2 linked regions of the Homo sapiens genome follow. The protein of the gene in region 2 interacts with the protein of the main gene of each other region in a pairwise test. Each region holds a gene or a part of one and is shown on either strand. Other genes may lie near its edges.

Region 1 (2,325 bases), on a different chromosome or scaffold from region 2:
ATACAAGCTATATAGTATGGTACATATCATGAAAGTACAGAGTAAAAATGTTAACATGTTTTTGAACTCTGGAATATTGTTTTAATTTTCAGTGTGAAAAAAAAGGTGCAGTTTGATGGAACAAATTCCGCATTTAAAGAGCTGAAGTTTTTAACACCAGTGAGACGTTCTCGACGTCTTCAAGAGAAAACTTCTAAATTGCCAGATATGTTAAAAGATCATTATCCTTGTGTGTCTTCATTGGAACAGCTAACGGAGTTGGGAAGAGAAACTGATGCTTTTGTATGCCGCCCTAATGCAGCACTGTGCCGGGTGTACTATGAGGCTGATACAACATAAGAGAAATAAAGCTCTGTTAGGGAATGGGGTTTTTATTATTTGTGGGGTGTTTTGTTTTGAGTAGCTTTATATTGCTCTTAGGTCTGGAGTTGGCCATGTACCTATGTATCCTAAGCATTCACGGCAGTGAGCTCCTTTACTAACATTCATGTTATGGCAAGAGTTGTCCTCTACATTGGAAAGCTAATCCTACCTTGTCAGTTTCAACCAACTGAGTTTTTTCTTTAAGAAAGGTAAATTTTGTCAGCTAGTTTACTATGTTCCTTGAATATAAACAGGTTATAATACTACCCTGTTCACTTTACTAAATATAAGTACAGTAATGATGCATAATTAGAAAATGAGGTATTCTAGGTAAAATGTATGTTTGCCTTGACATGTTTTTAAAAGTTATGATGTACCTCCCTGCCTTTAAACAGAATACTTTTTTCTTTTTTTTGGCCTTTCTCAGATTAGTCAAAAATTCTATAGAATGACTCACTTCGAATACTAAGACACAGGAGGTTTAGCCTGCTTTCTTACCAAATTCATGTTACCCAGACTTGTGTTCTCTTGCGTCCCTTGGACTGCCTGTTGATTGATGGAAAGTGTCTGCACTGACACTTTTCGTCAGTAGTCTGTAGTTTCGTGGCCTCTTTTGATTATAACTGGGGTCACCAAGAAGGTTTACTTAATTAAATACCGCATTTCTAAGAGAAGATACTTTGTGTAAGAAAAGATGCCACATTTAGTGGTTTAACTTTTGTAACTTCACTTGATAGTTTTTAAGCAATTAGAATGGAGTTAGGGAAAGAACATATCATACTGAACAAATGTCATTCTAGTTTAGATAGCATTTCTAAGATAACTGATACTAATACTTGTTTTCTTCCCTATAACATAAAAAACTTCACTGTTAAGTCATGTCCCTTGAAACATGATAGTTACATACACAGTTTTCTCTCCACACATAAATAACACCACTAAAGTTGTTTTGTAAGGTTCCAAACTAATATGGCATATATCAACTCTACAGTTTCAAATAAATGACTTTTTAATTGTAAAAGATTAGTTGAAAAACTGTATGAATGTGAAGATCACATGCTTAGTCATTTTTATGTTCATTCCACTTTGTATATCTTTTCTATTTATTGACTTCTCATGTTCTAGAGAGTAGGACTTTTATTCCGTGTACCTGATATATATACAATTAAAATATCTGTGTAATTATGTTTTAATGAAGTTTATTTCAACAGATATTTTATGAAATGCAGTTTAACCACAGTGAATGAATTTTAGCTTTGCTTTTGAAATACATTGTAAGATTTGACTTGAGGTTTTTGACACTTAAGTACATGCTTAATGATATATTTTCAAAAGTCATCAGTCTACTTACATAAACTTTACCTAATTTTTTTCACTTTAACAAAAACATAACTATGCCCTTGTTTTTTCATACTTTGACCCAAAATATGCCATTTTGAAATAAAATTTAAGCTTTGATACACTCTCAGCTTTTTAATATCTGTACCATATAATTCATTTGTCTGTATAGCAGAGTTTGAAATGCCTCTGTTAGAGAACTCAAGATACAACTTTTATGTTTGGACAAGTTTTTAAGAGTGTTTTTTTTCCTCCTTTACCTGAGGGGAAAATCTGTCTCTAAATATTCCTAGTTCTAACATTCAACCAGAGGTCTAACCCCTTTTCTGGTGCTTAAGGACAGCTATGTTATCTCTCCCCTAGGTTTGTTCCAAGCTAAATGATGTGATACCGTGCATAAGCATCCAGTAGAGACATAACAGGGACCCCTCTTAAGGGCCCGCTTGGATCTTCCCGTGTATAGTAATAAAGGAAAAATCTTGAGTCTCTTCAAGGGAAATTCCAGGTAGCTACCTAGCTAGCCTCAAAAAAGTAAATTGAACATCCTGGAATAAGGAAAAAAATGTTTCGTTTCCTATAGTAATGAAAGAACATCTTGACGCTGAATTTTTTGGAAACCCAGAT
Region 2 (5,691 bases):
TTGAACATTTATAACAAAATACAGTAGGGCTTCTCAGATATATGAAAGATTCTATGGGAATAAAGCAGGTTTCAACCAAGCAACACTGATAAAATTCTTCCTTCCAATTCAGTAATAAGCTAACACAATAAAAGACCCAGTGTTATTGGTGGTATTAATTTTCTGATATAATTAATATTCCAGTTTAATAAACCTTTTACCTGATTTCTTTTTTCCCATGCAGTTTCTCAGTATGAAATTTCACTACAAAGTTTGTAGAACGAAACCATTCACCAGCTCCTTTCCCACCTCACCAATTTGGGGCTTACTGTAGCCTTACAGATCAGCAGATAAAGATACATTTGGCCAATAATTAACTTTAATCCATTTTTATCTTCCCTACCCACTCTAACCCCCAAGCATGGGAAAGACACTTCCAAATTTATCTGAAAAATACTGAGAATGTCCTATTCTGGGACTTAAAAAATACGAGCCTGGTACTCACTGTATTAGACTGTAATGTTTTTGACATCCCAGAACAGGCATTCTGAAATAAGCATAAAACCTTTAAAGTGCAGCAAACTGCTTATTATATATTATTTTAATGTCAGCCTGGCCACTAAAAGAGGTTTTAAAAATTACATATGAAAGCCCATCAAACTGTTTTCCATAAACCTTTATGTTTAAAACAGTTTCAATCATCCACCAGAGAAAATCTACTTTAAGACATTTTAATTTATAATAACCCAATTCTAAAATCCTGTACACATGCTAGTCAGTGCTCTGAATAAAAGTTAATTATACACCAGAAGTGTCAAAATTCAGCACAGTCTATTATACGTGAGTGGCTCTGTAAACAGAAGTTACTAAAAAATATTAGTAATAATTAGTTCTTAAAGCAGTTTAGGTCATAAAATTTAATGGATACTTTAAGGCCTTTGTTCCTATCTTCAACAACTACTTCCTTCATGGAGGCTTTGGAAAATTGCTTTCCTTTTTTTCCAACACTCCTCCTGCCCCTTTTTGGGGCCAGTAAAAGAAAACATTAAATTCCAGTTGCAAAGCAAACAATTACATTGAATATAAAATAATGATCTCATAGTAACAATTAAGGTAAATTACCTTAAGAGTGTACTTGAAAGTATAAATTACAAATATTTTCTTATAAATATCACTTAACCCCAATTTGCCAAAATGTGTACACTATTTTCATTTGTAATAGTATTAATATTGAACACACAAGGTAAATGCTTGTTTATGCATTTAAAATAATTTCCCATATCAATTATTTTTTAATTTCAGAAAGCTTTCTTTGCAATCTGCAAATTGACTACAGAAAGCCAAAGCAAACCAGAAGCCAATGAATGTTAAATTGTAAAACCTCAAATGTACATGTCATAAATTAACCATTTTAATATTACTATTAGGTAAAAAGGTTTACCTCCTCCAAATTTCATTCTTACTTTCACACACACACCAAGAGTACTGTCTACTTGCCAATCTCTAGGAAAGCTAAAGGCAATAACAGACAGGACAGAAATTCAAATAAGAGGAAAAAAAGCGAGATACCAACCTTCTGCACAAGGAACAACTATCAGAGCTCTGTCAATAAAAACCGTGTTAGTTAGATGCTGGGCCACGCCAACACTTGATGGATCACGAAACTTAACATAACATACTTTGGAGGAAAAAGCAAGAGGTGCGTTGCTGCAAGATAAAAAGAAAAACAATTGAACTAATAAACATTTGCTTGGTTTTATCATTTTCACTTAAAATTTCTTTCTTAACCTTTACATAATCTTACGAAATTAAGACTTTAAAACTTTTTGTTATTAAGGATCATTAACACATAAAACAGTGAAACTTAGTCATTTAATGGTGATTTGTCTACCACAACAGAAGGCAATCCAGGCAGGCCTACTGCCTTACTTGTAAAACTTGGAACTCAAATTAATCAATCCTTAATCCGAGTGAATGTAAAAAAAGCTAATTTAACCCAAAAATTAACTCAAAAAGTGTATCATATGTAAGCAAAAATCCCTTTATAAAAGCTCCAAACCTCAAGATTTCAAATTTTATCATCATTCCAACTCTTCCTAAATGTGTTTCCCAAGCATTTACATCACTAAAAAACTTCACAACAGTCTTAGAAAGAGTCAGGTAGTATGGAATTTAAATTGAGGTATTTTGCATACACCAGAGCTGGACAGTGATGATTTTCCAGACAAAAGATTTTACAAACAAAATCTTACATATTTTATAGGCAACAAAGACTCTAACTGGTCCTACTTGATTCAGTTTAATCCAGGCAGGCCGATACTAAAAATGAACCAGACAAAGCACAAATGAAAGGAACTTTTCCTAAAATGAATACATCCTGTTAGATTCGAAAATATACTATCCTCATGGATAATCATTTTGTCAGCCTATCCATAATTACTTTTCATTAAAATCTGTAATTGTCTTTAGCAGGAAAAAAAAGACCGAACTAAGTACATACGTAATCTGTAACATAGATTTTATATTAAAATCTATTTGAAACATTTAAGATTTTTCACACTAAAAAAAGAGAGATCACTTGAAAAATATATGACTTAATAGTCATTTACTTTTGTTTACAAAACAGGAAAGAAAACTGACTACAATTCCAGAACTAGTAAATCGCAAAGTTAACATCTAATGTCTAATCATCTAATTCCAAACTTCATGCAACTGTAATCATTCAACTAATCAAGAATCTTTAAACCATTCTGACATACTATTAAATTAGCAATTCCACAAACATTAGCCGTTTTTAAAATCCAAAAATCCAGATTTCTTTGTAATTCTTCACGTCCAGGAACAAAACCATCTTTAAACAACGTAGAATAACCACATTAATAACGGTTAAATTTATATATATTTATGCTATTAACCAAACAATGTGATAATAAAATGAATCTGCATTTAGAACTTAAAACTATTTACATTATTAACACAATTAGTAAGGCTAATTAAAGTTGAAAATAAAAGATGTACCGCCGGGCGCAGTGGCTCACGCCTGTAATCCCAGCACTCTGGGAGGCCAAGGCGGAAGGCGGGCGGATCACGAGGTCAGGAGATCGAGACTATCCTGGCTAACACGGTGAAACCCCGTCTCTACTAAAAATACAAAAAATTCTCCAGGCGTGGTGGCGGGCGCCTGTAGTCCCAGCTACTCAGGAGGCTGAGGCAGGAGAGTGGCGTGAACCCGGGAGGCGGAGCTTGCAGTGAGCCGAGATTGCGCCACTGCACTCCAGCCTAGGCAACAGAGCGAGACTCCTTCTCAAAAAAAAAAAAAAAAAAAAAAAAAAAAAGGATGTACCTCTTAGCATCCAACTCACTTCTGCCTAAGGGCATCCAATTCAGGATTCACATCAGCCCTCAACAAAAATCCCTCCTTACCCAACCCAACACCTAAGTCAAAGCAACTTGTGTACTGACACTGAGGTTAACTGTATGCACATCCAGACTTAACTCACCACCTTTACATGACCAAATCACCAATTCAGGCCTCTTGTGAGCTCTAGACTCCCAGGTACAAGTGCCTGCTGGAATATTACACCTTGATGGTCACTAAGTAAGTTGAAAATACATTCATCAACCTCCTTCCTTACCAGTCTTGCCCTCTGTCCCCTGCATTCCATATTTCAGTAAAAGATATCATACTACCCAAGTCCGAAACCTAGGAGTCACTAGTGTGACCATCCTAAGCACTGCCCACCAACTACTTCCAAAGCTCTTTCTAGGTACACAATAAAATTCCATTTTTCTGTTCCTTTAAGTTAGGTGTGGCCATGTAACCTGCTTTGGTCAGTTAAATATGAGCAGAACTGACATGTGTCACTATTCTGAAGAAGCTCTGAGAACCACTGTTTGACTCTTTTCCTCCACCACAACGACTGGCAACATTCAAAAGATGGCTGGGACTCATCAACTTCATCCCAGAGTGAATAACCACAATGAGTAAAGTTCCCACCCCCACGAATTTAGTCTAAAAAATATTTTGTCAGCCAGGCAGGGTGGCTCATGCCTGTAATCCTAGCACTATGGGAGGCAGAGGCAGGCAGATCACCTGATGTCAGGAGTTTGAGACCAGTCTAGCCAACATGATGAAACCCCATCTCTACTAAAAATACAAAAATTAGCTGGGTGTGGTGCCACACACCTGTAATCCCAGCTACTTGGGAGGCTGAGGCACAAGAATTGCTTGAACCCGGGAGGCAGAGTTTGCAGTGAGCCGAGATCACACCACTGCACTCCAGCCTGGGCAAGAGAGTGAGACTGTGTCTCAAAAAAGAAAAAAAAAATTGTCAAACTACAAAGATCTGAAGTTATTTCCAAAACTCTACTTATTCTAACTGATAAATTATCCTTGACCTTTCTGTCCTCATCCAATTGGTCAATATATCCTGCTTAGAGTACCTTGTAAATATTTGTCACATTAGTTTTTTCATCATTCTCATTACCAATGCCTTAATTCAGACCCTCATCATTTCTCATGTGGATTACTTAACAGCTTTTAAGAAATCACACAGCACCCAACCTCAAATCCTTATTAATGGTCTTCCACCAAAGCTCCCACAGTGATCTTTCTAAACACTAAATTTCATTGTGTCACTCCACATATCAAATTTCCTTAAAGGTACTATTCTGTTCTTGCCTCGTCATGGAAATGCACCCAAAAATGATACCTGTGGTTCCAGCAACACATCACAAACATATGGGTCTTCATATATGCTGTTCCATTTGGTTACGATGTCCTCGCTAACTCCCATTTTGAATGCTAATTCCACTCTTCTTCAAGGCTCAAATTTCCAAGTCTTCTGGTAAACCATCTTAAGATACCGCAATCATTAGGTACAGCCTCCTACATGTGCTACCAAGACATTCTATATTGCTTTGGCACAGGCCTTAGCACGGTTTCCTCATGTGAAACCCTCAAAAGATCCTATAAGCTTCTCTAGCCATAAATGATTAGTCACCAGTCTCAAGGGCCCATTTCCCTGGCTGACCAGCAACCTCTAATTTTGGAAGTCAGGCTCGACCAAATGAGCTAGATCAATCAATCAGGTTCTCTCTATTGGGCTGGAAGGTGACTTACAGCAAGCTGTAAGCCAGATGATGAGTACATAATAGGTATGCAAAGAAATGGAGTAGATAGAAACAAACTGAACTGATAATAACCACTGCAGAGAAAGAAGCAGATAGTCATCTTGATTGCTGATACCCTTCTGGTTCCCAGTACTAGTTCCCATGAGGCCTGGCTGTACTACAATCTTTATTTTTCAACGCAGTGAAATCTTTCTTTTTAATAATAATGTCTCTTCTCGATGTACCTTGGGTAACACTGTTTCTGTCCTTTTTAACCAAAAACAATCTGTGATTATAATAACCTACTAAAGCCCTAGCAATTCCAACAGGAATAACTCTTTTGCCTCTGAAATCTTCAAGAGCCTGACAGTCATCTCTGAAGCAACATTTCCTAAACTGACGGATCCTTTTGTGAAGGAATGTAAATGTTAAGTAAGCACTACTGAAAACTAAAACCACATTTCCAAATACCCCTAGTTGAAATCTACTTCATTTCAAACTTAAAACATCCACAGGAATAGGAATTCTGAGTCTGGTTTGTAATGCAACTACATCTGAAGACATGCCACCAACATTTCAGAAGCCTGGGAACTGGTTAAA

Evidence for each region. The genes of interacting proteins can lie anywhere in the genome.
Region 1: the proteins of SREK1 (region 2) and CKAP2 interact in a two-hybrid assay, tested with the Homo sapiens proteins (one large-scale study listed by BioGRID).

What each region holds. Positions count from the first base shown.
Region 1 is NC_000013.11:52,474,803-52,477,127, forward strand, and holds the end of CKAP2 (cytoskeleton-associated protein 2), read left to right. Parts: intron 1-92; coding exon 93-339; 3' UTR 340-1,825; downstream 1,826-2,325. UniProt on the Homo sapiens protein: Possesses microtubule stabilizing properties. Involved in regulating aneuploidy, cell cycling, and cell death in a p53/TP53-dependent manner.
Region 2 is NC_000005.10:66,149,458-66,155,148, reverse strand, and holds part of SREK1 (splicing regulatory glutamine/lysine-rich protein 1), read right to left. Parts: intron 1,687-5,691; coding exon 1,553-1,686; exon of another isoform or gene 1-1,552. UniProt on the Homo sapiens protein: Participates in the regulation of alternative splicing by modulating the activity of other splice facors. Inhibits the splicing activity of SFRS1, SFRS2 and SFRS6. Augments the splicing activity of SFRS3.